Regions from separate parts of the Homo sapiens genome. Here region 2 is linked to region 1. The links come from fine-mapping of genetic effects on gene expression. A gene starts in region 1. The other region holds a variant in brackets. All regions are shown on one strand. Distances are from middle to middle.

Region 1 (15,880 bases):
ATCCTTGGAGATCTTTATCCCAAATGATACCTACCACAGGAGTTTTAATGTCTGCTATAATATAATTTCTAACAACTGGTTTTTCTCTGAATGCTCCATTTTTTTATAGAGCAAACTATTTTTGTCTCATGTTTAGGATATTTTCACTTATCTCTCTGAATATAATAACAATAGCTTTAAAGATCTGTTTGTTTCCTTCTCCTTGTATAGTTTGTTTCCTGTAAGTTGCCTTTTTATGGTGTTTATTTTGGTCTTTATCTTCCATTAAGGGACTTGTATTAGTTGGGTCCCACGCTGCTAATAAAACCATACTGGAGAGTGGGTAATTTATAAAGAAAAGAGGTTTAATTGACACGCAGTTTCACATGGCTAGGGAGGCCTCACGATCATGGTGGAAGGCAAAAGAGGAGCAAAGTCATGTCTTGCATGGCAGCAGGCAAGAGAGAGAACATGTGCAGGGTAACTCCCATTTATAAAACCATCACATTTTGTGAGACTTATTCACTTCCACGAGAAAAATATGGGGAAAACTGCTCCCATGATTCAATTATCTCCACCTGGCTCCGCCTTTGACACATAGGGATTATTACAATTCAAGATGAGATTTGGGTGGGGTCAGAGTCAAACCATATCAGGGTTTTTCTCTGGATCATGGCTGCCTGCCCTGAGCATGAAGCAGCTGACTGGTCTCTTTAGGTACGTGGGCAAGATTTGTGACCATAGATTTGAGGGTAAGGTGATCTGGTTTATCCAATGTCAACATTTTTGGTTCTTTACTCTTAGGTTGGTTAAATTCCTGAGAGATGGATCTTTCAGTCTCCTGCTTTCACAGTATATGCCTGGCTGTTTGCATCCTGAGAACCAAGCAGAGCAAGGCTGGAGAAACAGCATTCATGATGTGAACTGCTAATGAATTTTTCTGCCTGTATTAGGAAATCCTCAGCCTCAAATGTACTTAGTCTTCTAGTAAAGAGATTGTCAAATTTCCTTCTCCAGAGAAGCCACTTTAGTATTCTTGCAGAATAGGGAAGGGGATGGGACCCAACTTCTTAAGTAAACTTTCAACCAATCCTCTTGTTTTGAGCCTCACTTTCTTTCTACATCCACAGATACCTGATGCCAAGTCCTGAGGTTTTTGGAAGTGCTGCAGTGGAAATTAGGTTCTTCTTGGCTTTCCCAGTTTAGCATTTGGCCTTCTCAGATTCACAAGATCAATTATCATTACGTAGACACTCACATTCTCTTTGTCCTTGTGAGTTTATCTCTTTACTGTAATTTTAGCAGCATAGAGAGGAAGTAAGAATGAATCTATGTTGAGAATTTACAAGAACCTCTTAATTTTTTACTTCAGAAGGGTGAGCTTTATGGTACATGAGTTATATCTCAATAAAAAACATTTTAAAAATAAATAAGGCTGGATGCTGTGGTTCATGGCTGTAGTCTCAGCTACTCAGTAGGCTGAAATGGGAGGACTGCATGAGCCCAGGAGGTTGGGGCTGCAGTGAGCTGCACATCAGTGCAGTGAGCTGCATTGATCCTGCCACTGTATTTCAGCCTGGGCAACAGCTGAGACCATGTCTCAATCAATCAATCAATAAAAATGTGTCTGATATGCCATCTTTATCCTAAAGTATGACTCCATAGTTTAGAGATGAGGACAGTGAACCAGAGAAGCTTAAGTGAGAGGCCTAAGATAGTGATGTTTTCTTTTCTTTCTTCTTCTTTTCTTTTCTTTTTTCTTTTCTTTTTTTTTTTTTTGAGGCAGAGTGTTGCTCTGTTGCCCACACTGAGTGCAGTGGTGCAATCTTGACTCACTGTAACTTCAACCTCTCGGGCTCAAGCAATTCTTCTGCCTCAGCCTCCTGAGTAGCTGGGACTACAGGCACATACCACCATGCTTGGCTAACTTTTGACTTTTTGGTAGAGACAAGGAGGTCTTACTAAGTTGCTCAGGCTGGTCTCAAACTCCTGGACTCAAGCAATCCTCCCACCTCAACCTTCCAAAGTGCTGGGATAACAGGTCTGAGCCACCACACTCAGATCCATAGTGATGTTTTTGTTTGTTTTTGTTTTTGAGACAGAGTCTCACTCCATCACCCAGGCTGGAGTGCAGTGGTGCCATTTCTGCTCACTGCAACCTCTGCCTCCCGAGTTCAAGCTGTTCTTGTGCCTCAGCCTCCCAAGTAGCTAGGATTACAGGCATGTGCCACCACCACTCCTGGCTAATTTTTGTATCTTAGTCGCCATGTTGGCCAGCCTAGTCTTGAACTCCTGACCCCCAATGATCCTCCCTCCTTGGCCTCCCAAAGTGCTGGCATTATAGATATGAGACACTGTGCCTGGCCAGATAGTTTAAAGTGATGGTTTAGATAAATCCACTCCAGAGTTTTCAGTTGTTTCTGGTCTTGCAGAGTTATATTTTGGTGACAGTGGCACAGAATTTGGCTCTTCATCAAAGACCCTGGGCACTTGCCATTCTGGCCTACACCATTTCTGCCAGAGGACCATTGGCATTCTGGAAAACTAGCTATCTTTGCAGGGGTGAAATGGTTTGTAAGACACTGAGTTGAACACCGTGTAAAAATTTAGAAATATTGTTAATCATTTAATTGTTAAATATACATATCTCTAATGCATTTTATACCCTGGAGTAATCTTAGAGAGAGATGAAAAGATTAGAACGGTGATGGTGGAGACTCCAGGAGAAAAGGGACAATGGCTCTCCCAGCACTCCCTTCCCTACCCAGTTCCCATATGTAATTTGATAAATACACAGAATCCAGAGTGGCTTAAAAACATACAAGAAAGATTAAGTGTCTATGGCTTTTCTTAATGTAGCCAAAATCAATAGTGTGAGATCGTTTCCTGTTAATGTTTAGGTATTTATGTGTCCAACCTCCATTAGTGTTAAGTACTCTTTCCTGCCAATACCTGTTTCTACACATTTTTAAAAGTTGTTTATTTCATATTCACAGTCAGTCTCTTACATGGATGGCTAAGAGAATACAATAAGATGGCTATTCAATTATCTTAAGCAAAAAAATGTTCATTACCTGACATTAAATCAATTTTTCTCCAAAACTTGTTCTTGATCTCTTGGGCCTCCTAACCTTCATCCCTTTGTTTACTACCATGATTCAAGCAGGAAGAGTCTATCTTTCTCCTGGATGATGATATAATTTTCAAAATTGTGGTATCATATGCCTTCATTTGTTTGAACAATCAGAGAGCCAGAACTACCCTTTGACATAGGTAGGGTAGTCAGATTTAGCAAATAGAAATATAAGACAACTTGCTAAGAATTTAAGATAAATAATAAATTTTAGTATAAGTATGTTGCAAATATTGTAGGGTATACTTTTTTGGGTTTTTTCTGAGATGAAGTCTTGCTCTGTCACTCAGGCTGGAGTACGGTGGTGCAATCTTGGCTCACTGCAACCTCCACCTCCCGAGTTCAAGTGATTCACCTGCCTCAGCCTCCTGAGGAGCTGGGATTATAAGCATGTGCCACCACACCCAACTAATTTTTTGTATTTTTAGTAGAGACAGGGGTTGATCACGCTGGCCAGGCTGGTCTCGAACTCCTGACCTCAAGTGATCCACCCACCTTGGCCTCCTAAAGTGCTGGGATTACAGGGGTGAGCCACCACTCCTGGCCAGGGATATACTTACACTAAAAAATTACTTGTCATTTATCTGAAATTCAAATTGAACTGGGTGTCCTTTTATCTTATCTGGCAGCAACCCTAGACCCAGGCTACCTGAAGCCCCTCCACTGGGCGCCCTGGGTCCCATAGAGACTTCCCACTTTTGTTCTCCTTGATGAGCAGTCCCTAGCATCAAATATCTACCCCCTCTTTATCAACGGTGCATCTGATACCTATAACTACAGAATCTCTTGCCTAAACTGGCCAACATCTGTTGTCAAGGCCTTCAGCTTTTCTCCCAGGACAGTCCTTTTGAGTGCAACCCTAGAATGGAGGTATGGCCAAGGCTCGGCTGATGGGAAAGGGTGGATAGAGATGGGATATGTCCTAAGGCATCCACGCACAAGGGAGTGGGCCAGCCTGGTGCAGGACAGAGTCAAAGTGAAAGGACAGAGCCAGAAGAGAAAGCCAGGGGCTCCATTTGTATCCTCGCCCCAGGCCCCACAAATATGAGGGGTAAGACTACAGAAAGCATCCCACTTGCCACACATTCTGTGTGATTTCTGCTGGCTATCGGTCAAGGAAGATACATACAACAAGGGCAGAGTATAGAGTTTTTCCACTTACATAAGTCGGTTTCTATCTATCCTTTTCAATACCTTCATTTGCTTCAATGCATTTGTTTCAGGGGAAGTTTACAATTTCTTGTAAAAATTTCACCAACAAATGAGTATTCTGAAAAAAGAAACTTAAAAAAAGAAACTTAAAAAAAATCCACGTTCCCATCAACAATAACACCACAAAGTAAATCTAGTGTTTCTTTCCTGTACTGAGCCTTTTAAATGTGGTTCAACTCAATGCACCCAGGTGCTCTGTTTAAGTGCTAGCCATTCTCCAGAGATTCCTCAGAGTGCTAAAACATAAGACCTGTTCATTTCAGAAGTAACACAGCATAAATTGTAAGCACAGATTCTGTCAGAAGAAAACAAATGAAGTAGTACGAAGACACAAGAGAAAAGCAGGCTTTTGTAGAAATACATGTAGTAGGAAGATGTAAGAGAAAAGCAGGCTTTTGTGGAAATATCATGTACTAGGATATTTATAGTATGAACAGTGCTCATTTAACCTCAAAGAGAAAATTAAGTTAATCTATCTCTAAGGCTCAGGATTGCATGTATCCACCTACGTGGGTGCATGCCAGAGTGCATTTTCTATATGGCGCATTCTATCAGTTGGGATTGCATTTGGCTCCATCTAACAGAAAGCCAACTACAGTGGCCTTACAAAGTCAGGCATTTATTTTTTTCCAGTAAGAAGCAGGTCTCTGATGCCATGGATTCTTGGGTTCTTTCTGCCGTCCTTGGCTTGTGAATTTCTTCCTCGTGTTTGCAAAATGGCTATTGCCCCTCTAAGCAGGAATGGGAAGGGTGAAGGGCCAAGTAATGCTGCCAAGTCTGTCTTCTTTTTAAATGCTTTCTTGGAGATTCCAATTAGTACAGTTTGCTCACATCTCATTGGACATTAATGAGAGAGACCCACCTCCAGCTGCAAGGCAGTTTGAAGTGCCCAGTGTTTCAGCTGGGCACATTGCCACTCCAAACAATATTTAGGTTATCTTAGGAAGGAAAACAGGAAGGCTGTTTATCAGGTAGGCTATTTGCCATCTCTGCTGCATGTGAACTACTCTATAAGCTCTTCAAAAGATAAGACTTTTTTTCCTTTCAGCATACATAACAAGTTCATCACTATATAGTAAGTTAAACAGATACAAACAATAAATATTTGTAACGGACACTCACGTTCAAGTGCTATTTATTTGTCCACAAATTAGTACATTGAGAGATTGTCTCTCCAGATGTTTATTTCTATACAATAGATCTCAGCATCAGCTAGTCAAAAATTCTTTACCACATACAGAATTTTCTGCTGATGCCAAAATTTACCTTTATGTTACATTAAAAATTTTTTAAAAAATATTGCACCTTTTTGGGCTCAAGCAATCCTCTTGCCTTAGCCTCCTGAGTAGCTGGGTTTACAGGCAAACACCACCATGCCTGGTTTAAAATTACAATATTTATTAATTGCATGGTAGAATTAAAGGATGCAGAGATGACCAAAATAATCTTTGCCCACCTGGAACTTTTTTTTTTTTTTTTGAGATGGAGTCTCACTCTGTTGCCCATGCTGGAGTGCAGTGGCGTGATCTCAGTTCACTGCAACCTCTGCCTCCCGGGTTCATGCCATTCTCCTGCCTCAGCCTGCCGAGTAGCTGGGACTACAGGCGCCCGCCACCACACCTGGCTAATTTTTGGTATTTTTAGTAGAGATGGGGTTTCACCGTGTTAGCCAGGATGGTCTCGATCTCCTGACCTCGTGATCCGCCCGCCTCGGCCTCCCAAAGTGCTGGGATTACAGGCGTGAGCCACCGCGCCCGACAATTTTTGTATTTTTAGTAGACACAAGGTTTCACCATGTTGGCCAGGCTGGTCTCAAACTCCTGACCTCAAGTGATCCACCCGCCTTGGCCTCCCGGAGTGCTGGGATTACAGGCGTGAGCCACCGTGCCAGGCCTGTTTTTTGATTTTTTTAATAGGCCATTTTAAGGACTTTACCACCTGGAGCTTGTAACCTAATAGGACTGTGAAACATACACTGGTAGCATCCTGGCACCAGTGCTGGGGTGAGTGCCACAGGAGAGGAGCCAAGTGCAGTCAGAGTAGAAGGACTCAAATAGAAGAGATCACATCTGGTTGAGTCAAACAGTAAACGTCCCCAGAAGACACTGGAAGATGCAGGCTGGAGAGAGCTACACTTTACATACAGCACGACAGTATAGAGATATTAATAGCATACAGTCACTTCAGGTAACTACAAGTAATTTTAAAACATCTGAATAAGTGCTTCTTTGTTGTCTGTGGAGTGCTACACAATGCTTCGGCCTAAACGTCAAGCAACACAGAAAAGAAGCCCCACTTCATTTGCAGCCTCAGATAGCTTACGAAATTGAGACACCACCTGAAGACCATGACCCATACAATCAAAGTGACTTCATGGAAGACGAGTAACTGCAAAACCCTGTGAAAACAGATTGTTAACGCTACTAATGAAAAGAACTGGATTGTTACGGGAACCTCAAACTGTCCTTTGATCAACGGACATGACGCCTCAACACGCATTTTCCAAAGATCTCTGCTGATAATTCTGACCTTCGGTTAATTTAATTAATTTCATTTGATTTAATTCATTTTAGTGTTGTCCTCAGTCCCGCACTCAAAACAGATTTTTATTATATGAAAATCTTCCTAGTCACCTAAAAAATCCGCATTCTATGGAAAAGACTATATAATTTTTCAAGAGATTCTTTGCAATTTTCACCTATGCTGGTTTATGACCTAGTTAGAGAAGACATCATAGGGCATTATTTAGGTAATAAAATACAGAGAGAAAAGAGCCACTGGCATTTCTAAATAACGTTCCTGTGTTTCCTACTGTAAGTATAGGAAAGTAGGTGTTCGCAGATGCAGAGAAAGGGCATCTCCAAGGCCTCGGAGGAAACTTTTGATTTTATAAATAACTTGATGGTGGAAGGCAAACGCCATCCCGGTTCCCAAGCAGGCTCCACGCAGCCTCCATGGCCGAGTCCATCTCCTCGCCGTCCTCTTCCCTCCTCCCGGCCGACTTCCAGCCGGTGCGGGAGTCGGGGTGCGCCCGGCCCTCCTAGCGCTGCGCCGCCCGCGCCGACGTGGCGGAGCGCACAGGTCGACCGGGTCAGGTGGTTGGGTGACGCCCCAGGAAAGCGCTCCAGGCCGAGGGCGGGCGGCGCCGCCGCGCCCGACGCCTCTGGGGGTGGGGACTTCGCGGGAGTCGCCGGCGGAGGCGAGGAGGAGCTCTGCGCGGCGCGGCGGGCGATCCGAGCCGGGACGGGCTGCAGGCGGGGGTGCTGCAGAGGACACGAGGCGGCGGGCTGGAGACATGGACCGCGGCGAGCAAGGTGAGGGCGCGGACCCAGCGGGCTTGGGCTCGGGCTTGGACTCGGGCTTGGACTCGGGCTTTGGCTCGGCGCGGGGCTGAGCGCGGCCCGGCGGCTCGAGCAGGTGCCGAGCCTCCTGGGCCGGCGCCGCAAGTTGCATCTCCCGGATCCGGATCTGGCATCCTGGGGCCCTGGAAGGAGCGGCTCTGGCGGGGGCAGATGGGACTGCATGTGTGAGTGTGAGTGTGCGTGTGTGGGGGAGAGGGAGAGAAGGTTCTGGGAGGTGGCGAAGGGGCTAGCGTCAGGGGCTGGCGGCCGTGATGCGCTTTGGGTGGAAAGCCGCGTGAAGGGAGCACGGCGCAGCCAGCTCCTGTAAGTGACTGGAACCAGGAACAGAGGACAGTGAGTCGCTCTCGTCCCTCCAGGTGGGAAACCCCTCTCTCCCTCATAAATTAAGACTTTCTGCCTTCTTCTAAGTTCAGGTGGTTAGGATTTTTGGTGGCGTATGACCCATGGGGGGTTTGGGAGGCAGATATTTATCATACTAGAAACCCCCAGATTGTGGAGTGGTGTCTGTGGGTTTGAGGGAAGAGAGCTTTTCGTAGGAAGGGTGAAATCCCACAACACAAAACCTTCAGTCTAATTTACCATAGCGTTGGGTGCACTTGCTTCTGAAAACAGCTCAAGTGAAATTACCCCCAAATAGAGCAATAGTAGGCCATGGTTTTCAGATTTAAATAGTTTCATCCTAGAGATCTCTGCTGATCATAAGCCTGTGACTGTACGCAGATGTGTGTGGCACGCTTTTAAAAAGATACATAAATGCTGAAAAAAGAAAACAAGGTAGGTAATCTTGGGAAGTGAGGATAGGAATCACTCCTGTTTTGAGCCCTGACACAAGTTTTCATGTATTGCTTATTTTCCTCCAGTATGTGCCGTCATGTGTGCATTTTTATGTAAATCAAACCATATTCCAAATATACTATCTTGTACTTTATTTTTTTCAGACTCTGGTGTTTTTTTTGTTTGTTTTTTTGAGTCTCCACCTGTAGCCCAGGCTGGAGTGCAGTGGCGGGATCTCAGCTCACTGCAACCTCTGCCTCCCTGGTTCAAGTGATTCTCCTGCCTCAGCCTCCCAAGTAGCTGGGATTACAGGTGTGCGCCACCACAGCCCGGCTAATTTTGTATTTTTAGTAGAGACAGAGGTTTCTCCATGTTGACCAGGCTGGTCTCCAAGTCCTGACCTCAGGTGATCCACCCGCCTCAGCCTCCCAAAGTGCTGGGATTACAGGTGTGAGCCACTGGGCCAGGCCTGTACTTTACTTTCATTTACTTGTAAGATAGACTCTTTGGAGTCTTTCAGCTCTTTCCTCGCTCCCCTTCAGATTAATTTCAGACTTAACACAAGTGCTTACAAACATTACATACAATATGCTTTATATGTGTTACCTATGTGTATATATATATTATACATTACCTGTATAACGTATATATACACATACATATTATTATCTAAATTTTAAGCTTCTTGAGGTTAGAAACATTTCATCTTTGGTTGTCCTGAGTGGGATAACATGATGACTTGTACATAGTAGACATGCAAATGTTTGAGTTAGAAAGCTTGTCACATGTCTTGTATATATTGTTAGCCGGCTTAGGGGCCACCATGTAAGTCAGCATTATGTCTGTCTGGCTTTCAATGGGGGCGACGCAGGACGGGGGAGACATGACGACAAACGTGCCCATGTGTATTTGTATACTAATCTGTTACACACTGTCGTTTGACATAATGATGTTTTTAGAATAACTATGTTTGGTACTTGTCAAAGTAAATTAAACGGCTGTGTTTTACTTACGTGAGTGGAGTAACTAGTTTTAGTAGTGTTTGTGTTCTAGCTTGGGTGGTAAGAATCAACAGTCATTGGTAGCACTGCAGTATTCCAACTTCTTGTGTAGTTTTTATAGGACTAGTTTAAGTGTCTAATTCTAAGACATATTTTTTTCAAATCTTTATCTTGTAAGATGAGTCTTTTCGTGTCTATAATTTTCCCATATGTTCTTTGGGTGAGGTGGAGGACTCTGCTCCGAATGAAAGAAGAGGCACTGCCTTGGGAGGGTCAGTTCATTTACTCCAAAGCTTTGCTGTGTTAGAACAACGTGGCCAAGGCTGGGTGCGGTGGCTCACACCTGTAATCCCAGCACTTTGGGAAGCTGAGGCAGGCAGATCACTTGAGGCCAGGAGTTTGACCCCTGTCCAACAAGGTGGAACCCTGTCTCTACTAAAAATACAAAAATTAGCTCGGCGCGGTGGCACCGGCCTGTAGTCCCAGCTATTCAGGAGGCTGAGGCAGGAGAATCACTAGAAACTGGGAGGCAGAGGTTGCAGTGAGCTTAGATCAAACCACTGCACTCCAGCCTGGGCGACAGAGCGAGACTCTATCTCAAAAAACAAACAAACACAAAACAAAACCACCTGGCCATTCCTTACTCTTGCTTCCACCTGCCTACCTGCCTTTTCATCTTTATGTTACCAGTGCACACAGTAGGTGCTTAGAAATATGTGTTGACTGCCTAAGATGAGTGAGGAAAGTGTCCAAGAGCAGGCCCCAGCCATAGTAACCTCTGTGTCCCTCCAAATCCATCTCTTGTTTCCCACTTTCTCCTGTTCTGTTTTCCCTGTCTATTCTCAAGAAGCAGAACTTAGCCAGAGAGTTGCTGATAAGGCAGTGCTGGGCTTGGAGGATAACTTTACATGGAAGATCTTAGAACTAGTAGAGTGGATGACTCAGTCTTAAGTGAATCTGGAGCAAGACTCCTGCCTTAAACTGGAAAAGGCACAACCTGGGATTTTAAACCTGGTGTTCACTAGCAAACTGTGTTGGCTGAAATAAGGTTTATCAAACTCTGTGATTGTCTCCTGAATTGTGATTTTGGCAACATACTTAAAACCAAAGCAGAAAATTTTAGGATTTGTTGAACTTTTAATAGTTTTTAATGTACATGGAGTTTTCTTATATTTGTCCCTTAAAAAATCCCTAATGAAACTCTAGTTGTAAAATTAAATGCCCTACCTCTTGTCTTACATGCATTTATCTATTGAAAATCCCTCTTCCAACCTTCTTATGTGAAGTTATCAAAAAATCTGTTCTTGCTACTGATTGTACTTAACAGAGCTGTAAATTTTTAAAATAAACACTGAGTTTTCCTTATGTTTTCAACCACGAGTATTCTAATGCTCTGTAGTATCAGGCCCAGATTCTGTTGTTTTTCTACTTTCTCTCATACCTAGGGCTTGAATACAATACTCTGCTTACAGTGAGAGTTCAGTGAACATCAAATGATTTAAAATACGTTAAATTGCATCATGCCTTTCAAGAGTTTCCAAGCATTAAGCTCAGCGCAGCACATTTACTGTGTGTGGTATTTCCTACTTTGATAGAGCAGTGTTGCTAACTAGAGCATACATTGTGTAGAAAACCCTCCTGACTACCTTTTATGGAGCTGAATAAATATGTATACTTGAGTGCTCTCATGTTAGTCATAACCTTTAGTTTAGCACTGTTATATAGAAGTGACAGTCACGTAGCCCACTACACATTATACTAGTTTGAATTTAAACAAAGCAAAACAACTTTATAATTTTAAGGGGAAGAGGAATGGTTCCTGAGGCCAAAAAACTAGAGAGGAAAGGCTTCAAAAAAAGAATAACACAATAATATGTCACTATCATTTTAACATTGTAATTGTGCCTTAGAAATAAATAACAGAAATGTGGGGTATCATTTATTTAAAAATAAAGCAAATGTAGAGAATAATGGATAATAATTTTGAGGGTCTACTCCCAAGTCTCTGGGTGTGACCCACCCCATCCAGGCTGTTAATTTATTTGGTCAACAGTTTCGTGATTTCCATATGGTGCTGATGTCTTTGTTAGCTCTTCTTCACTTCCTGCATTTATTTTTATGTGGCAGGCTGCCTAGTCCCTAGGGGAATAGCTGAGTGGTAGGAGGGGTTGTGATCTTTTAGCAAGATTTCAAAACAGAATAATGTATGCATGTAATAAAAACAAATACGCTCACTCACAGTGCAAAACCAAAAAGAACACCCAAATCCCTGGAACTTCTGTGCTACTAAGTCTTTTGTTGTAGGCTAAGATTATTTTCCTTTTGGGGTTAATTATTTCTGCCTTAATTATTGACTGTTGTGAAATCTCTCTTCTGAGACATTCCCAAATTTTATTTAAACTAGTGGGTACCAGCTGTACTGAAACCATAATTTTAGCCATGTATTTTTATTAGAAAAATGTTTCCAGGGGATTAAGGAATTTTAATATTTAGTGGAAGTTTTAAAAAAGAATGTAAAAATGCCTTTTGGAACCTAAGAATAGTTGTCTATTTTAGAAAAATCAGAAATATTGATGGAGAAAAAAGAAAATTACCCATAATCCTGTGCGAGAATGAGAAATCATAGTTAGCATATTAATTTATACCTGTTCATGTATCTATGCTTTAAACAAATCACAATTTTATTATTATTTTTTTTAACAGTGTCTCGCTCTGCCACCCAGGGTGGAGTGCAGTGGCGTGATCTCGGCTCACTGCAACCTCTGCCTCCTGGGTTCAAGCAATTCTCCTGTCTCAGCCTCCCAAGTAGCTGGGACTACAGGCGCATGCCACGACACCCAGCTAATTTTTTTGTATTTTTAGTAGAGATGGGGTTTCATCATGTTGGTCAGGCTGGTCTCGAACTCCTGACCTCAGGTGATCTGCCCTCATTGGCCTCCCAAAGTGCTGGGATTACAGGCGTGAGCCACTGTGCCCGGCCAACAAATCACAAAATTTCTTATTGAATATTGCATTTTATAACTTGCCCTTTTAAAAAAACCCTAAATGTATTTAAAAAATACACTTTAATGGCCGCATGTGGTGGCTCATGCCTGTAATCTCAGCACTTTGGGAGGCCAAGGCGGGCGGATCACCTGAGGTCGGGAGTTGGAGACCCGCCTGACCAACATGGAGAAACCCTGTCTCTACTAAAAATACAAAATTAGCCGGGTGTGGTGGCATATGCCTGTAATCCCAGCTACTAGGGAAGCTGAGGCGGGAGAATCGCTTCAACCTGGGAGGCGGAGGTTGCAGTGAGTCTCTCTCTCTTGCCCAGGCTGGAGTGCAATGGCACCAATTTGGCTCACTGCAACCTCCACCTCCTGGGTTCGAGTGATTCTCCTGCCTCAGCCTCTTGAGTAGCTGTGACTACAGGCGTGTGCCTCCACGCCATAATTTTTCTATTTTTGTAGAGATGGGTTTCATCATGTAGTCCAGGCTGGTCTCGAACTCCTGGCCTCAAGTGATCCTCCCGCCTCAGCCTCCCAAAGTGCTGAGATTACAGGTGTGAGCCACTGCGCCTGGCCTAGAGCAGCTCCATTTTTAATGGCCATTTGTATGTATTTATTTATAGATGTAACATTTTATATACTGTTATAGACAATATTTAACTTGTTCCCTGTTGATGAACATTTACATTTTGCCTTGTAGGGGAGGAAAAATTTCTCCCTACCCTTTTAGGGTTTCTGGCGAGGCCTAGGAATTAAACCAACATGAGATAGATTAACAGGAGAAAAGCATGCAAATTTTATTTAGTGCTTTTTATGTATTACATACCTTTTACCCTCACAAGAGGAATGAAGACTCAAGGAAGTGGCTTGGCCTGATCGATTATATACTAGGTCAAAAAAAGAGTGGCAGTTGTGGAAAAGTAACTAGGAAGGTAAGGTTTAGTTTAGCAAGGTTTCTTTATGCAGATTTCTTTGGGCTTGGACTTCCTGTGATAAGAATGTTTCTTTCTTCCTGGTAGAGGGAGGACATCTTTCATATGGGAGCTTCATCTTCTGCTTTCAGGAAAAAGAGAGGAGGTTTGGGTGCCCTTCTTAACACCTGCTGTTTTTCAAGTGCCTTTAGCCCAAAATAATCAGCATGCTAAAGTGGAATGTTTTGGGATGCTGTGTCCTGAACTCCTTCACCCTGATATTTTGCTGTTAAAACAAAGCTGCAGCAAATGTATGTGTATGCAAGTCATTCCATAAAAATGCCAGTGTGTCTGTAGGAAGAATTCTTAGAAGAATGTGGCTGTTCAATTTTGATAGTGCCAAATTCTGCTCCATAGAAGTGGTGCCAGTTATACTTCCACCAGCATGTGCGAGCGTTTGCTTTCCCTTGCCATGTGGCCAGGATGTTGCCACACTTTTCCATTGTTGCTTGTCTTATAGGGGAAAAATGGTTTCTCAGTATAAGTCTTACTATATATATTTAATATAAAGGTAGTTTACTTCTTTTGATATGTTTACAATCTACATGGCATTTTCTGTGAAATATCTGGCCATATCTTTTGCCAATTTTTCTATTGTATTTTATAGAATGTACCCCGTTTATGAGATGAGTTGTTAATTTTTTTTCTAGTTTGTCATACCTTTTTTGACTTTATAGTGATTTTTTTTAACCAAGAAGAAATACTAATAGCTCTTTTTTTTTTTTTTTTTTTTTTTTTTTTTGAGACATTGTCTCCCTCTGCCACCCAGGCTGGAGTGCTGGAGTGCTGGAGTGCAGTGGCATGATCTCTGCTCACTGCAACCTCTGCCTCCCAGGCTCGAGCAGTTCTTGTTCAGCCTCCCAAGTAGCTGGGATTACAGGTGCGTGCCAGCATGCCTGGCTAATTTTTTGTATTTTTTAGTAGAGATGGGGTTTTGCCATGTTGGCCAGGCTGGTCTCGAACTTGTGGCCTCAAGTGATCTGCCCACCTGGGCGTCCCAAGCTGCTGGGATTACAGGAGTGGGCCACCATACCCAGCCTAACTAATGGCTCTTTTCATTTATGGATTCTAGCTTTTGAATCATTTTTAGAAATGCCTCCCTCACTTTGAGTTTATGCTTTTATGGTTTTATTTTTTATGTTTAAATCTTTCCTCAATCTGGAGTTTGTTTTGATAATGAGATGTGAGGTATAAATCTTAACACCTCCACCTCCAATTGGCCACCCAACTGCCTAACACCATTCATTGACTAATGGCTTCTTCCTCTATTGATTTGAAATACCACTGTTGTCATGTACTAAATTCTTACATTCTTTTCTTTTCTCTTTATCTGTATGTTCATTGCCAGCAGCTAAACCTAGTTTAAGTTATTGTAGCTTCATAAAATGTAAAAATGTCTGGAAGGGCTAGTTTGCTCTGATTACTCTATTTTTTTTTCTGTCAGTTTTTTTCTAGGTATTCTTGCCAGACTATTTCCAAACGAACATTAGAATCAACTTATCTAGGTGAAAATTCAACAAAAATCATGCTGGCAGATCTTTTTCTCCTTCTCTCTCCTCCCCCCTTTCCCCTTTCTGTCTGTCTGTCTCTCTCTCTCTCTCTCTCTCTCTCTCTCTGTCTCTCTCTCACAGTTAGAATTTGGTCTGTTTCTTTATTCAATACCCCAATATATGTTCATTAGGGTTATACTGTATACACTACACATAACAGTTTTGTTTTTTGTTTTGGATATTATTTGATAATAAGAATTTTACCACATCATTAAAAAAAGTTTCCCCAAGCTATAATTTTTGATAATTGCACTCTTCCACTATTCAAATGTTTATTTAACTCTTTCTCTCCTGGAGTAGGTTTACATTCCATTTTAGCTATGATACTGCTTTAAGAGAAATTGTTTTAAGATAAATTTCCATAGACAGGTCAAAGGAGGTGAATATATGTAAGCTTTTCGATGCCTGTTACTGAATCTCATTCTGGAAAACATAACTGTCAATGCCCTCTTTTTCTCATGGTAAAAAAATACATAACAAAATTTACCATCTTAATCGTTTTTAAATGTACAGTACGATAGTGTTAACTGTATGTACCTTGTGCAACAGATCTCTGAAACTTTTTCATTTTTCAAAATGAAAACTCTGTACTCATTGAACAGCAGCTTCCCAACTTCCCCATTCCTCCATCCCCTACCCCTGGTAACAGTCATAGAAACCGTGATTTTATGAGTTTGACCACTTTAGATACCTCATATAGGTGGAATCATGCAGTATTTGTCTTCTTGTGATGCTTATTTTATTTAGCATGATATCGGGGCTCATGCGTGTGTAGCACATGACCCAATTTCCTTCTTAAGGCTGAATAATATTCCATTGTATGTATGTACTACATTTTCTTTATTATTTATCTATCAGTGGAAATTAAGGTTGCTTCCACATCTTGGCTGTTGTGAATAATGCTGTAA
Region 2 (15,880 bases), 76 kb after region 1:
TTATTAAAAAGGATATGCCAGAGGATAAATATGCACAGTTTGATGGAAGAGGTGCATAGGGCGAGGTGTGGGAGAAGGGGCATGGAGCTTCCATGTCTCCTTTGAGCATGCCGTTCTCCAGGAACGTCCATGGGTTCAGCCATCTGGAAGCTCCCAGAACTGTTTTGTTGTTGTTGTTGTTTGTTTGTGGAAACTTTATTACATAGGCATGGTTGATTAAATCATTGGCTGTTGGTTAATCGATTCAACTGTAAGCCCCTCTCCCCTCCCAACAAGTTGGGAGTGGGACTGAAATTTCCGGCCCTCTAATCACATGGTTGGTTCCCCTGGCCACCAGACCCCATCTTGAGGCTATCTAGGAACCCCCAGCTACTAATTATCTCATTAATACGCAAAGACACTCTGATCACTCTGGAGATTCCAAAGATTTTAGGAGCTCTATGTCAGGAAACGGGGACAGACCAAATATATATTTTGCAATATCACAACACGATGTTCTAAAAGGCCTTTTCTATTTGCGAGGTATTTTTCTGCTACCCTCTGTAGCCAGCCTCCAGCATGGTTTGTGATGATCTGGTCTTCACACTCGTGTAGTTGCCTCCCACATGTTACCAGGTTTAGTCTGTGTGACCAGTAGAATATAGCAGAAATGATATGTCACTTCTAAGATAAAGGACAGTGGCTTCCATCTAGGGGTCTCTTTCTCTGTCAACCACTTTCTCTGGAAAACCAGCTGACATGTAGTGATCAGGTCCATAAAGAGGTCAACATCGAGAGGAGAAAAAGGCTCCTCAGTAGCTACGTGAATGAGCTTGAAAGTGAGTGAGCTTGGAAGCAAGCCTTTGGAGATTACAACCCTGCCTGAGGGCTTGCCTGCAACCCCAGGGGAAATCCGGAGCCAGAACCACTCAGCTAAGCTGCTCCCTCATGCCTGACCTTCAGAATCTGTGAGATGGTAAATGTTCAATGTTTTAAGCTGCTGAGTTTTGGAGTAATTTGTTTTAGATAACTAGGACATGCTGCAATTCCTATTGTGAGTCGAGTTGTACTCCTTCATTCCCAATGCCCTGGAGCCCCTCAGTGTGTGCACACAGGCTTAGTTGCATGCACTCTCTTTCTCTGTCTGCCTTCCTCCTCTGTTTCTCTTTCTCTTTGCCTCTCTCTCACACACACAATTTCACTTGGCTGCTGACACGGTTTGGGTGTTTGTTCCCTCCAAATCTCATGTTGGAATGTGATACTCCCCGGTGTTGGAAGTGTGGCCTCATGGGAGGTGTTTGGGTCATGGGGGGGATCCTTCATGAATGACTTTGTGCCCTCCCCTTGGTAATGATCAAGTTCTCACCCGGTTGGTTCACACGAGAGCTGGCTGTTTCAAAGAACCTGGTCCCTCTCTTGTTCCTTCTCTCACCATGTGATGCGCCTGCCTTCCCTTCACCTTCCACTATGAGTGGAAGCTTCCTGCGACCCTCACAGAAGCAGATGCTGGTGCCATGCTTCTGTACAGCCTGCAGAACCATGAGCCAAATATAAACCTATTTTCTTTATAAATTACCCACTCTCAGTTATTGCTTTTTAATAATGCAAACAGATTAACACAGTTGCTTAATTCTTTTTTTTTTTTTTTTTTTTTTTTTTTTTGAGCTGGGAGTCTCACTCTGTCGCCCAGGCTGGATTGTAGTGTTGCCGTTTCAGCTCACTGCAACCTCCACCTCCCGGGTTCCAGTGATTCTCCTGCCTCAGCCTCCCGGGTAGCTGGGATTATAGGCATGTGCCACCACATCTGGCTAATTTTTGTATTTTTAGTAGAGACGGGGTTTCACCATGTTGGTCAGGCTGGTCTCGAACTCCTAACCTCAGGCGATCTGCCCGCCTCAGCCTCCCAAAGTGCTGGGATTACAGGCGTGAGCCACCGCGCCCGGCCTTAATTCTTTATTATGTTTATCTGTTATCTACATTATTTCTCTTCCCATACATCTTTTCTTCTCTTTTAAATATGTTGTTGTCTGGGTCCCTGCTGCTAATACGTTCAATAGTAAATATCTCACTGTAACACTTGGTATGGCAACACTCTGAGCTCAGGAATGATGTAACGGTTAAATGTATGTGTGGACTTGACTGTGCCATGGGGTGCCCAGACATTTGGTCAAATATTTTGGGTGTGTCTGAGGCTGTTTTTGGATGAAATCAACATTTGAATTGGTAGACTGAGTAAAGCAGATTGACTTCTCCGAATGTGGATGGGCCTCATCCTATCATTGAAGGCCTGATTGGAACAAAATGGCTGGGAAAGAGGGAACCTCTCTCTGACTGTCTTCCAGCTGGGACATTGGTCTTCTCCTGCCTTTGGACCCAGGCTTGAACTAGAATCTAATGCCACAGTTTCTTCTGGGTCTCCAGCTTACTAACTGCAGGTCTTGGGACCTCTTACTTAGCCTCCATAATTGTGAGATATGAGAACCCTGACTGTACAAATGACCTAATAAACTTTGGCTAGCTAGGTGACTGGAAAGAGCTGACTTAGTAAGTAATTTCTGAGATGCCACCTGCTGAAAAGTCCTTTATCCAGCAGCCAGTATGAACCTGGTTTCAGGTAGGGTTTTTCAGTGAGGCAGATTCTAGTTTCTGTTCCGAAAACAATTGGTTTTTAGAGAGAAATGCTGAAGGTGCTGTTGCCTTTTTGCTTCTCTTTGTCTGCTTGTTCATAAGCAGCAGAGTACAATCTGTAAAGGGGAGTATGAATAGTGTTTCTGTTTTTGTTTAAGAGTAAGAAATTGCCAGAGAAAATAATTAGGGCTTGGATCAGCTTATTTAAAGCAATCATCTTCACACTAAGATATTACTTTGGTTTATTTCAGAGCTTGTTTCTGTGTGTCACTTTGCCCCCTTCTGCAATTTGTGCCCTTTGATTTTCAGTTCTTAAAATTTGGAGGCGAGATTTCCCCAGAGGATTATCTTTCTAAATCAAATCCTCTTTATCAAGAATCTAAATTTAAAATTGCGTGTTTTGATAAACATGCAGGTTAAATGTTTAGAACACTACTTAGAGAAGATGCTGGGGCCCATGCCTGCCTTCTTAGAAATCCACAGAAAGGAACTAGGGCTGCCAGTATTTGTTGTATCATTGGGCCATAATAGGTTTGTCATCTTGATAGGCTGTTTTCACCAAATATTTGCCAAGAAAAGAGACTTTAAGAATTAAATGTAGGCCTTAAACTTGTTCTACTTCTGCATTCAATAGATATCTGTTTCTGTTTCATTTTAAAAAGATGTTAGACCAGCTGGGCGCGCTGGCTTACGCCTGTAATCCCAGCACTTTGGGAGGCTGAGGTGGGTGGATCACTTGAGGTCAGGTGTTCAAGACCAGCCTGGCCAACATGGTAAAACCCCGTCTCTACTAAAAATACAAAAATTAGCTGGGCGTGGTGTCACGCTCCTGTAGTCCCAGCTACTCAGGAGGCTGAGGCAGGAGAATCACTTGAACCTGGGAGGCGGAGGTTGCAGTGAGCCGAGATCACACCACTGCACTTCAGCCTGGGTGACAGAGCGAGACTTCATCTCAAAAAAAAAAAAAAAAAAAGATGTTAGACCACCATCCAGTTTTGTGAACCTCCCTCACCTGTGGTGGAAGGTTCTTTGCAGATGGTAATACCCTCCCATCATTTGCAGCATCTCTAGCTTGGCCAGATATTCAAAACATTGTGTTTTTTGTTTGTTTGTTTGTTTTTTCATAAATGCCAAGAATTTAGCTACAGTTGGTCAGGCGATTGTCTACTTTGCATTAATAATGGCATTTGATATTATAATAGGGCCGTTATTTCCTTTATTATGAGCTTAGCCTTTCCATTGGAACTGCTGGAATACCTTGGGAGATATTGTGGGTTTGATTCCAGACAGCCATAATTAAAGCAAATATAGCAATAAAGCGACTCACACACATTTTTTGGTTTCCCAGTGTATGTAAGAGTTATGTTTACACTATACTGTAGTCTTTTAAATGCACAATAGGCATTATGTCTAAAAAATTGTGTATATACCCTCGCCCCCAAAACAAAACAAAACAAAACAAAATTGTGCACTTACCTCAGTTTAAAAATACTTTATTGCCAAGAAATGCTAACGGTCAGTGAGTCTTCAGTGAGTCCTAATGTTTTTTGTTGCTGGAGGGTCTTGCCTCAATGAGAATGGCTGCTGACTGATCAGGGAGGTAGCTGCTGAAGGTTGAGCTGGCCGTGGCAATTGATGGGCTCTTCCTTTCACAAAAAAATTTCTCTGTAGCATACAATGCTGTTTGATAGCATTTTACCCACAGTAGAACTTCTTTCAAAACTGGAGTCAAAACTCTCAAACCCTGCTGCTGCTTTATCAACTAAGTTTATGTAATATTCTAAATTCTTTGTTGTTATTTCAACAGTGTTTACGGCATCTTCACCAGGAGTAGATTTCATCTTTGCTCATCTATAAGAAGCAACTCCTTATCCCTTCAAGTGTTATCATGAGATTGCAGCTATTCAATCACATATCCAGGCTCCACTTGTAATTCTGTAATAGTTCCCTTGCTATTTCTGCCACATCTGCAGTTATTTCCTCCACTGAAGTCTTAAGCCTCTCAGAGTAATCCATGAAGGCTGGAATCACCCTCTTCCAAACTCCTGTTATGCTATGTTTTAACCTCCTCCCATGAAACATGAACTTTCTTAATGGCATCTAGAATGGTGAATCCTTTCCAGAAGGTTTTTAATGTACTTTGCCCAGACCCACCCGAGCAATCTCTGGCAGATTGGCCACAGTAGCCTTACAAAATGGATTTCTTAAATAATAAGACTTGAAAATAGGAATTACTCATTGATCCATGGTATGCAGAATGTATGTTGTATTAGCAGGCATGAAAACAACATTCATCTCCTTGTACATCTCCATCGGAGCTCTTGATGACTAGGTGCATTGTAAATGAGCAGTAATATTTGGAAAAGAAATCTTTATCTGAGCAGTAGCTCTCAACAGTGGGCTGAAAATATTCAGTAAACCATATTATAAACAGATGGGCTGTCATCCAGGCGTTGTTATTCCATTTCTAGAGCACAGGCAGAGTAGATTTATTTAGCATCATTCTTAAGGGCTTTAGAACTTTTGAAATGATAATGAGCATTGGATTCAACTTAAGGTCACTGGCTACATTAGCTCCTAAGAAGAGAGTCAGCCTGTCCATTGAAGCATTGAAGCCAGGCATTGACTTCTCCTCTCTAACTTTGCAAGTTCTAGAGGGCATTTTCTTCCAATAAAAGGCTGTTTCATTTACATAGACAATCTGTTGTTTAGTGTAGCTACCGTTTTAGTTTGTTCTTGCATTGCTGTAAAGAGCTACCTGAGACTGGGTAATTTATAAAGAAAAGGTTTAATTGGCTCACAGTTTCACAGACCGTACAGGAAGTATGGCTGGGGAGGCCTCAGGAAACTTAGAATCATGGTGGAAGGCAAAGGGGAAGCAGGGACGTCTTAGATGGGTGGAACAGGAGGAAGAGAGCAAAGTGGGGAGGTGTTACACACTTTTAAACAATCAGATCTCTTGAGAACTCACTATTGTGAGAACAGCAAGGGAGAAATCTGCCCCTATGATCTAATCACCTCCCAGCAGGCCCCTCCTCCAACACTGGGGATTACAATTTGACATGAGATTTGGATGGGAACACAGATCTAAACCATATCAGCTACCTTCATAAATTATCTTAGCTAGATCTTTTGGATAGTTTGCTGCAGCTTCCCTATCAGCACTTGCTGCTTCACCTTATACATTTATGTTATGGAGATGGCTTCTTTCCTTAATCCTCATGAACCAACCTCTGCTAGCTTCAGACTTCTTCTGCAGCTTCCTCACCTTTCTTAGCCTTCATAGAATTGAAGAGAGGTAGGACCTTGCCCTGGATTAGGCTTTGGCTTGAGGGAGTGTTGAGCTGGTTTGAACTTCTATCCAGAGCATTCAAACTTTGTCCATATCAGCAATAAGGCTGTTTTTGCCCTCTTATCATTCATGTGTTCACTGGAGTAGCACTTGTAATTTCGAAGCTTCAAGAACTTTTTCTTTGCATTCAAAACCTGGCAGGTGCAGGCGGTCTGGTTTTTGGCCTACAGAGACTATTGACATGCCTTTCTCGCTAAGCTTAATCATTTCTAGCTTTTGATTTAAAGTGAAAGATGTGCTACTCTTCCTGTCATTTGAACACCTAGAGGCCATCGTAGGGACATTAATTGGCCTAATTTCCATATTGTTGTGTCTCATCAAATAGGGAGGCCTGAGGAGAGGGAGAGAGATGAGAGAATGGCCAGTTTGTGGAACAGTCAGAGCACAAACATTTATCGATTGAGTTTGCCATCCTGTATGGGTGTCGTTTGTGGCATCCCAAAACAATTACAATAGTAACATCAAAGGTCACTGATCACAGATGACCATAACAGATATAATAATAATGAAAAAGTTTGAAATAATGAGAGAATTAGCAAAATGTGATGCAGAGACACAAAGTGAGCATGTGCTGCTGGAATAATGGCACTAATAGATAGACTTTCTGGACACAGTGTTGCCATAAACCTTCAGTTTGTAAAAAACATACTGTGAAGTGCAATGAAGTGGAGTGCAGTAAAACAGGAGTATGCCTGTACATGTAAACATGCTTTCTTTGGTGCTACTTCAGATACTTAGGAAGCCTTGACCATAGTCCAAGCAGATGAGTTTTGGTGCTTGAGTATTTTACCCCAGGCAGACTAGGAGAAGTTTGTGTGTGTGTGTGTGTGTGTGTGTGTTTGTGTGTGTGTGTTTGATAGTCTTTATTTATTTTGAGACAAGTTCTTGCTCTTGTCACTCAGGCTGGAGTACATTGGCACAATCATGGCTCACTGCAGCCTTGACCACCTGGGCTTAAACAATCCTCCCACTTCAACCTCTTCAGCAGGTGGGACTGCAGGTGCACACCACCATGCCCAACTAATTTTTGTATTTTTCATAGAGACGGGTTTTTGTCATGTTACCCAGGCTGGCCTCAAATTCCTGAGCTCAAGCAATATGCCTGCTTTGGCCTCCCAAAGTGTTGGGCTTGGAGGCGTGAGCCACTGTGCCTGGCCGATAGTATGTATGTATGTATGTATGTAGAGATGGAGTCTCACTCTGTTGCCAGGCTGGAGTGCAGTGTCGCGATCTCAGCTCACTGAAACCTCCGCCTCCTGGGTTCAAGCGATTCTCCTGCCTCAGCCTCCTGAGTAGCTGGGACCACGGGCGCATGCCGCTACACTCAGCTAATTTTTGTATTTTTAGTGGAGACAGACGGAGTTTCACCATGTTGGCCAGGATGGTCTCGATCTTTTGACCTCATGATCCTCCCACCTTGGCCTCCCAAGTGCTTGGATTACAGGCATGAGCCACCGCACCCGGCCTAGTCTTTGTATTTTAGGGCAGTTTTGGGTTTACAGAAAATTGAACAAGTAGTGCAGAGTTCCTTCACGCCCCTAGTTTCCCTTATTATTAACACCTTAAATTCATATGGTACATTTGTTACATTTGGTTAATGCTGAGACATTATTATTAACTAAAGTCTGTAGTTTTTATTAGTGTTGTCCAGTTCAATGGATTTTGACAGATGCATAATATGTAGCCACCATTGCAGTATCATACAGAATACTTTCACTGCCCTAAAAATCACCAGCACCCCAACCTAGTCATTCCTGCTTGCCTCCCCCTCAGCCCTTGGTAACCATTGATCTTTTTACTGTCTCCATAATTTTGTCTTTTCCAGAATGTCACATAGTTGAGATCTTACAGTATTTTGGCTTTTCAGATTGGCTTTTGTCAATAATATGCATTTAAAGTTTCTTTGTGTTTTTTCACAGCTTGCTAGTTCATTTCTTTTTAGTGCTGAATAATATTCCACTGTCTGGATGTACCACAGTTTATTATCCATTCACCTACTGAATGACATCTTGGTGGTTTCTTGTTTTTGGTGATCATGAATAAAGCCACTATGACCATTCACTACAGGGTTTTGTGTGGTCATAAGTTTTCAGCTCATTTGGGTAAATACCTGGGAGTGCAATTGAAGGATCTGTGATATATTCTTGGTCCCAGCATCTCTCCTCCTGCTGACAATTACCCTCCTTATTGTGACAACCTAACCAGGCCTGCCTCTCCCAGGGCTTCCTCTTCTTCACTTAGAGCATTTTCTGAACAAGTCTGGACACAAAGGTCTTGCTTATATTTTCAGGAAAGAGTATTTAAAATACTTCTTAATCATGGTTCCAACTTATTTCAACTCTTATAATTAAGTGATCATTTTTTTTTTAAATTATGGTAGAATATGTGTATATAAGATATAATTTGTGATTTTAACCATTTTTAAGTATACAGTTCAGTTGTATTCATCATATTCACATCATTGTGTAACCATCACCACTATCTGTTTCCAAAACTCTTACCTGGGGATATGATCATTTTAAAAGAGGAATTTGAAGAAATACATCTGAAGCTATATTTGGCAATATGTTTCCATCAGTAACTCCCAAAATCTCAGTGGCTATTGGCAACAATCTTTATGTCTCCCTCATGTTATATATACATACATATATATATATATATATATATATATATATATATATATATATATATATATATATAAAATTTTCTTTTGTCTAGAACTTAGTCACATGGCCACATCTAACTGCAAAGGAGCCTGGGAGGTGTAGTCTAGCTACCTGCGTAAGAATAAGAACAAATTGGCTTGGCGATTTGTTAGCATTCCTGGCCATATTAAGTAAGATTATTAAATCATACACATTGTTAACTTGATCTTTCAGAGATGACATGACAGTAATTGTATGGTTTCATAGATCTGGCTGTGTTTCAGGAGAGCATTTTTCCATCCCATGCTCTCTTTCCATCTAAACGTTAATTATCTTATCCTTTTAACACTGAGAGAGCTTCCTGGAATAAATAAAATTATATGCCTATTTTGATAAATACCTGTTTGATAGCGATGTTTTATAAAACTCTGAGAAAAGTCAACAAGGAGCCTTCACAGTGATTAATACAGCAGTTATTATGGTCAGATGTTAAAAAAAATCTCATGTCTTCAGTCTTGTGCCAAAAGGCAAAGAAA[G/TGG]TTTTGAAGCTTTCCACACACTGATTTGGTTTCAAGATAATGGGCTACTATTGAGTTTACATGTAGCATTGGTCTTCTGCTATTGTCTTTATAAAGGAAAGTATGTGAAATTTGGAATTGGAAATGTCATTTCTTAACCAGAGTAGCAGGTTCAGATGGTGAAGCTATCACTTTTGGCACAGGACTCTTGTTTCTTAATAAAATTTAATGAAAAATTGACAAGATTTGTGCAGTGTATATTTTTTTTAATGGTTGACCCACTGAATGCATCTAATTAGCTTATTACAGTTTAAAAGCAAGTTTAACTGCCTAAATGTATGACTTGGTATTTTGATCTTGTTTGTTAGGTCTCAGCTTGCTGATGATAGAAGTTTGTGGTCCAATATTAATTTTAAATAAGTGCCTACTGTTCTCTAGAAACTCCCATTCCCTTAAGGAAAAGTGTTTCATATGAGCCTCTCATTGCCAGGAATAGCTGTGTAAGCATTGTGGAAGTTTTTTCCACATTAAAATGTAGTCCACCAGTTCATTTATTCCTTTTAGGGTTGTGACAGTCGCTTGTGTTTATGCACCCCTGTAGAGCTGTCTTTAAACTCATTCAGCAAATTGGAAACATTTAGCTTGGATGACACCTCTTTAATCTTCCAGTAATCTCACCATAGAGACCACTGTACTCTCAAATACATTGTTAATACTTTTAGTAAGAATGGCCTGCTTTCATTCTCTTATTACTGAGCCATTATTCTGGACTCTGTTTATTATTATTATTATTATTCCAGAGTCGAAATAATTATCCCGTTGAAAAGACCAAGCATGTGCACACCCTGTTGTGACACAGCCGGTTTTGTCCTATCTGAACTTGCCTGCTTTGTGAACTGTTAGGGTCTCAGAAAAACAAAAAACAAAATCTTTTATTTTTAACATTTAATTTTTTATAGTTTTTATATTTTTTAATTGAGACAAAATATATGTATATAATTTACCATCTGTACCATTTGAAATGTACACTTCCTTGGTAATAAATATATTCTTTATTCCCCCTTCCACCTTTATTCCATCCTTTATTCCTACCCCCACCCCTGCTCAACTCCTCCTCTTCCCAGCCTCTGGCAGTAATTTAAAGTGTGAGTGACAATCTCACCTCTTATAATTATGTGATCTTTTTTTTTTTTTAAATTGTGGTAGAATGTGTATAACACGGAATTTGTGATTTTACTCTCTCTTCACGAGATCTACAGTTTTTAGCTCCACTTGAGTGAGAACGTGTGACAGTTGTATTTCTGTTCCTAGCTTATTTCACTTAACATAATGACCTCTAGTTCCACCCATGTTGCTGCAAATGACAAGATTCATTTTTTTATGGCCAAGTAGTAATAAATTGTGTATATATACCACAATTTTCTTTATTCAACTATTAATGAATATAGGTTGATTCCATATCATTGCTATTGTGAATAGTGCTTCAATAAACGCGCACGTGCAAATATCCTTGACATCTGATTTCTTTACATTTGGGCAAATACCCAGTAGTAGGATTGCTGGATCTATTAATATGTTAATTCTGTTTTTAATTGTTTTGAGAAATCTCCATACTGTTTTTCACAGTGGCTGTGCTGGGAAGATGTGTCAGTGGGTGGGGGGAGGATAAAACGAGGTTAGTTAATGGTTACAAACATACCTTAGAAGGAATAAGTTCTAATGTTCGATAGCAGTGTAGGATGACCATAGTTAACAACAATGTATTGTAGATTTCAAAATAGCTAGAAAAGAGGACTTGGAATAATGCCAACACACAGAAATGACGAATACTCGAGGTGATAGATGCCCCAAACCCCTAATTTGATCATTACACAGTGTAAGCATGTGATAGAGTATCATATTTGTGCCCCCATATACATGTACACATATTTGTATCAATAAGAAATATATACAAAAAGCCAAACCTTTTTAGCTATAAAATCTGTCTCTTATGTTCAAATGTATATAGTTAGAAAGTGCTGGAGTCCTGTAACATCAGTATTCAGAGTTTACTCAAGCTTTCATCCTCAGGCAAACTTAGCAGCTGTTATCTAAAGCCAGACTTGCAGCATCAGAAATCACCTGGAGCTTGTCCAGAAAGCAAGAGTCTTGGGCTCCACCCCAGACTTTCTAACTCAGAATCTGTAGTTCCACAGGCTCCCCTGGTGGCTCTGGTATGTAATAAAGTTATTTGAGAAGCACTGGCTGGAGATCTTTTACCTGAGCCTGTAATCATGGAATCACCCATCAGTATGTGGAGTGACCATAACATTTCAACTCAAACTCTATTTCTAAAATGAAAAAATCTGTCTATTGTATCTAATTAAGTATATGACAAATATCAAGCTCTCTTTCCACTATTTTCTGGTGTTCTCATGATCTGACAATGACAGTGGCAGGACCATGTACTGAGATGACCGAAGTGAAAATAGTAATGCTCTTTTGTGTATTTTTTTTTTTTTTTTTTGAGATGGAGTCTCTGTCGCCCAGGCTGGAGCGCAGTGGCGCGATCTCGGCTCACTGCAAGCTCCGCCTCTTGGGTTCAGGCCATTCTCCTGCCTCAGCCTCCCAAGTAGCTGGGACTACAGGTGCCCGCCACCACGCCCAGCTAATTTTTTTGTAATTTTAGTAGAGACGGGGTTTCACCGTGTTAGCCAAGATGGTCTTGATCTCCTGACCTTGTGATGCCCGCCTCAGCCTCCCAAAGTGCTGGGATTACAGGTGTGAGCCACTGCGCCCAGCCTCTTTTGTGTATTTTAGAATCCAGTCTGTGACTCCTTGTGATAGAGAATTCAGGCATTCTTGAGACTTCTCAACAGATTCTGACTTTCCCAGGTACAGGCTTATCCAGACGACATGTTTGGAGATAGGTTGAGAGAGGGAATGACATCTTATGCTTATTATATGTCACTCTTGCTCTTCAGTATTTGAAGGAAACACTGTGTGAAGAACAAAAACCTTCTGTCCTGGCTGCTGACATTAACTCAATTTTAGTTATTTTGAGAGGGCAGAAGAATATTCTAAGTAGACTGTTAGGGGTTCCTAACAAGTGAGAATTTCTTTGCAAGTCAGTGGGCCAAATAAACGATTTCTTTAAAAATACAAATCCATTTTATCACTTAAGAGTATTTACATTTAGTTCCAAATAATTTGCATATGCCTGCTAGGTTATGCCTTTTTATTCTAGAGAAGAGGCTCCAAAGAGGATAGTTTTTTTTTTTTTCTTTCTTATAATACTGTGCTATAATAGTCTTTTTTCCCCCATTGGGATGGAAAATAAAGGAGAAAAGAAGTGGCATTCCCATAGGGAATATTTCCTAAGTTTCTAATGCAAAGTTTCTAATCTGAAAACTGCCACATATTTTTAAAAGAATGCCAACATGATTTAATCTAGTTTCATTCAGTTTAGGAACTGAAATGCCCCTGGGTGAGGGACAGCATCCCTGAACCTTCCTTGGCCCCTGGTCTGCCCCGCCCCTCCCCATCCCCACTGTGCTTCCTCTTCTGCATTGTCTTCTTTGCTCTTAAACACACACATTTGAAAACTTTATTTATTTGTTTTTTAAAGAGGTGGCACCATCGTAGCTCACTCTAGCCTTGAACTCCTGGGCTGAAGTGATCCCTTCTGACCCAGCCTCCTGAGTAACTGGAACTACAGGTGTGCACCACTGTGCCTGGCTAATTTTTATTTTTTATTTTTTTTGTAGAGCCAGGGCCTCGCTTTGTTGCCCATGCTGGCCTTGAACTCCAGGCCTCAAGCTATCCTCCTGCCTCAGCCTCCCAGAGTTCTGGGATTATAGGTGTGAACCACCATGCCTGGCCTAAAATACTTTTTAAAACTTCTTTTCATTCGCTTCTTCCCTTTCCTTTCCTCCACTGCCTACCACTTCTGCTTATCTGACATCTACCATCACTCTCACTAAAACTTCAGTGCGAGATCACCAGACCCCAAGTCCTGTGGCTTCTTCTTGCGTCTCTTTAGCATTTGATCTTATCCAGTTTCTCTCCTCCCTTGATTCCTGTGACATTGGTCACTCAAGGTTTTCTTCCAGATGTTTTGCTTCTTGAGAGCAATGGAATTGGAATCCTAAGTTTTACCACTTTCTAGCTCTGTGCCTAGGGCAAGACACTTAACTTTGATGTGTCTCAGTTTTGTTGTAAGATAAGGGTAGGGAAAAACTTACCCCATAAAATTGATGCAAGTGCATAGAAGAATGTCTGGCACATAGTAAGGGTTCCTTAAGGATAAGTCATAATTATTGTCATCATTAAAGGTCATTGCTTGCCCTTTTTAGGCTCTTTGGCCTGCATGCTGATTGTAGGTGTTCACTAATTTTTCCACTCCTTTTCATAGGGCCTCTCTTCTCTTCAAATTTTTTTTTGACGATCTCTGGGTTTCCCACATTTTATATCTTAGCCCCTAACTTTTTCCCTGAGGATAGAAGTTTAATTTCTAACCTCAGGCTGGCCATTTACTCCAGAAGTCTTGTGAGCTCTATTAACCAAATCTGCCAAAATGCAGCTCATTCTCTTATCACCTAAAGTCTCTTCTCTCTGTTCTTCAGTCCTGCCTCTCTTTTGCCACCATCTTCATTAATGCGGTCACTGTCCTTTACAACTCCTGCTGGGGTATCACACGTTGGCTTCTCATTGCCCGTCACCCAAGTCCTCCAGTTGATCTCCAGCATCTGTTGATTGTCTGTTCATGGTGTCATGCAGTGTGTCTTTGCTTTGCTGTTCCCGCTTCTGTTCCATGCAGGGCACATGCCTTTTGTATTAGTTGGTTTGGGCCGCAATAACAATACCATAGAATAGGTGGTTTGAACAATGGAAATTTATATTCTCACGATTCTGGAGGCTGAAAGTCCAAGATCAAGGTGCTGGTGGCAGGGTAGATAGGTTTCTGGCATGGGCTTGCTTCCTGGTTGACAGAGAGCTGCCAGGCGCAGTGGTTCACGCCTGTAATCCCAGCACTTTGGGAGGCCGAGGCGGGCGGATCACGAGGTCAGGAGATCGAGACCATCCTGGCTAATGCAGTGAAACCCCGTCTCTACTAAAAATACAAAAAATTAGCTATGTCCTCCCTGGCCTTTTTTCTGTGAAAAAGGCCTTTTGCGTGAGCATCCCTAGTGTCTCTTCTTACTAGGACAGCAGTCCTATTGGATTAGGGCCTCACCCTATGACCCTGTTTAATCTTAATTACCTCCTAAAGACCCCATCTCCAAATACAGCCATATTGGGAGTTAGGGCTTCAACACATGAAGCTGGGGAGACACAATTCAGTCCAGAACACCCTTGGCGCTGTTGCTGGGTAGCTGTCCTGACTTCCCTCTCCCCTCGGCAGTCCAGCTTCAGACAGGGGTGAGAATGATCTTTCTGACACGTGGCTTTGGCCTCCCATTCCTAATTACTCGACTTGGCTCCCCACGGCCTAGATGCAGTGAGAGGAAAATGACCACTGTAGGGTGGCTTCCTTCATTTCTCAGTTCCTTATGCTCACTCCTCTGGAAATTGGAGATAACATGACTAACCTCGTGTTATTGAGGGATTAAATAAATTCTAATGAAGAATTGTTGCTTTAATCTGACGAAAACCAAATTCCTACTCTCCAGCCTCCATTCGAGTTCTTCCATCACCTTGTTACTCCAAGTGTGATCCCATGTGGTTCCAGGGCCAGCAGCCTCCCATCACCAGGATGCAGACTCTGCATCACAGCAAGATCCCCAGGGCCATTAGATGTGAGGGACTGGCTTATCCTTACTGCCCGGCTCTAGGCTACAGCCACAGGATGGAGAGGACAGGGACTTGGAGGCACGTACCAGGCTTCAAACTGCGGCTCCTTTACTTGCTAGCTCTATGCCCAAAGACAGGTTTACAGGAACTGTCCTTGTCTTGTTTCCCCTCTGAAAAATAGGGAGAGGCAGAGGTTTACCTCACAGAGGTTTTGAGGATTAGCTGAGAAATTTTGTAAATAAGAGAGCATCTACCCTTGTGATTTTAAATTGAATTTCATACTTAAAATCAAGTACTTTTTATTTGGAGTCAAGGTTTGTTTATTGTGGCACAGTGTCGGGGAATGAAGAGGTGTGGGGTGTGGGGTGTTCATTAACCTCTCAGCCTCTCTGCCCTCTCACCCTGTGCAACAGGGTCCCCACTGGTCTCCCTCTGGGAAGATGTGACCAGCATGGGATATGATGGGGAGACTTCTTTTCTGTAGAAGGTAAACCAACTGCTGCTTCGGTGGAAGGTGGAGAGAGCCCTTCCAGCTCTCAGAAGGGGCCTGGAGCCGGTATGTGCCTGTGTGTCTGTGGCTGGAGCCCAGTCCCATTAGGCCCTGCCCCCGTGATTGCTGTGAGAGGTGGTTGCCACACACTTTCTCCACAGCGCCCTCAGGGCTGCTGAATCTAAGGCAGAGGAGTTCTTGTTTTTTGTTTGTTTGTTTTTTAGCCCTTTTCAAATTTACAGAAGGATTGCAAGAATAAGAATAGTGTAAATACCTGCTCCTGTGTTACTTTGCTGAAGATAATGGCTTCCAGCTCCATCCATGTCCCTGCAAAGGACATGCTCTTGTTCCTTTTTATGACTGCATAGTATTCCATGGTGTATATGTGCCAACAACACAGGTGTGGGGGAGGGAGAGCATAAGGAAGAATAGCTAATGAATGCTGGGCTTAAGACCTAGGTGATAGGTTGATTTGTGCAGCAAACCACTATGGCACACA

Direction of the effects. Positions count from the first base shown, and alleles are read on the strand shown. Sizes are in standard deviations (SD) of each study's normalised expression.
For the expression in adrenal gland of the gene that starts at base 7,499 in region 1, TGG is the low allele of the variant in region 2 and G is the other (moderate effect, 0.56 SD a copy in GTEx).

The links. PIP is the estimated chance that this variant, and not a neighbour inherited with it, causes the effect.
Region 2: its variant is fine-mapped to the expression of TPD52 in adrenal gland (GTEx, PIP 0.91).

The regions. Positions count from the first base shown.
Region 1 is chr8:80,163,183-80,179,062 of GRCh38, reverse strand. It overlaps TPD52 (tumor protein D52), which reads left to right and starts at 7,499. Exons shown (of 8, transcript NM_001025253.3): 1 at 7,499-7,638. The coding sequence starts at 7,620. It overlaps TPD52-MRPS28 (TPD52-MRPS28 readthrough), which reads left to right and starts at 7,499. Exons shown (of 7, transcript NM_001387778.1): 1 at 7,499-7,638. The coding sequence starts at 7,620. LOC105375920 (a long non-coding RNA gene) reads left to right here. Exons shown (of 4, transcript XR_929095.3): 4 at 1,110-1,409. RefSeq lists a silencer at 7,338-7,667.
Region 2 is chr8:80,087,210-80,103,089 of GRCh38, reverse strand. The region is part of intron 1 of TPD52-MRPS28 (TPD52-MRPS28 readthrough); the gene reads left to right. The region is part of intron 1 of TPD52 (tumor protein D52); the gene reads left to right. LOC105375918 (a long non-coding RNA gene) reads right to left here and starts at 15,695. Exons shown (of 3, transcript XR_007060978.1): 1 at 15,656-15,695; 2 at 14,978-15,061; 3 at 10,866-11,384. RefSeq lists enhancers at 496-545, 956-1,085, 848-1,348. The variant G/TGG (reference allele first, on the strand shown) is at 9,141.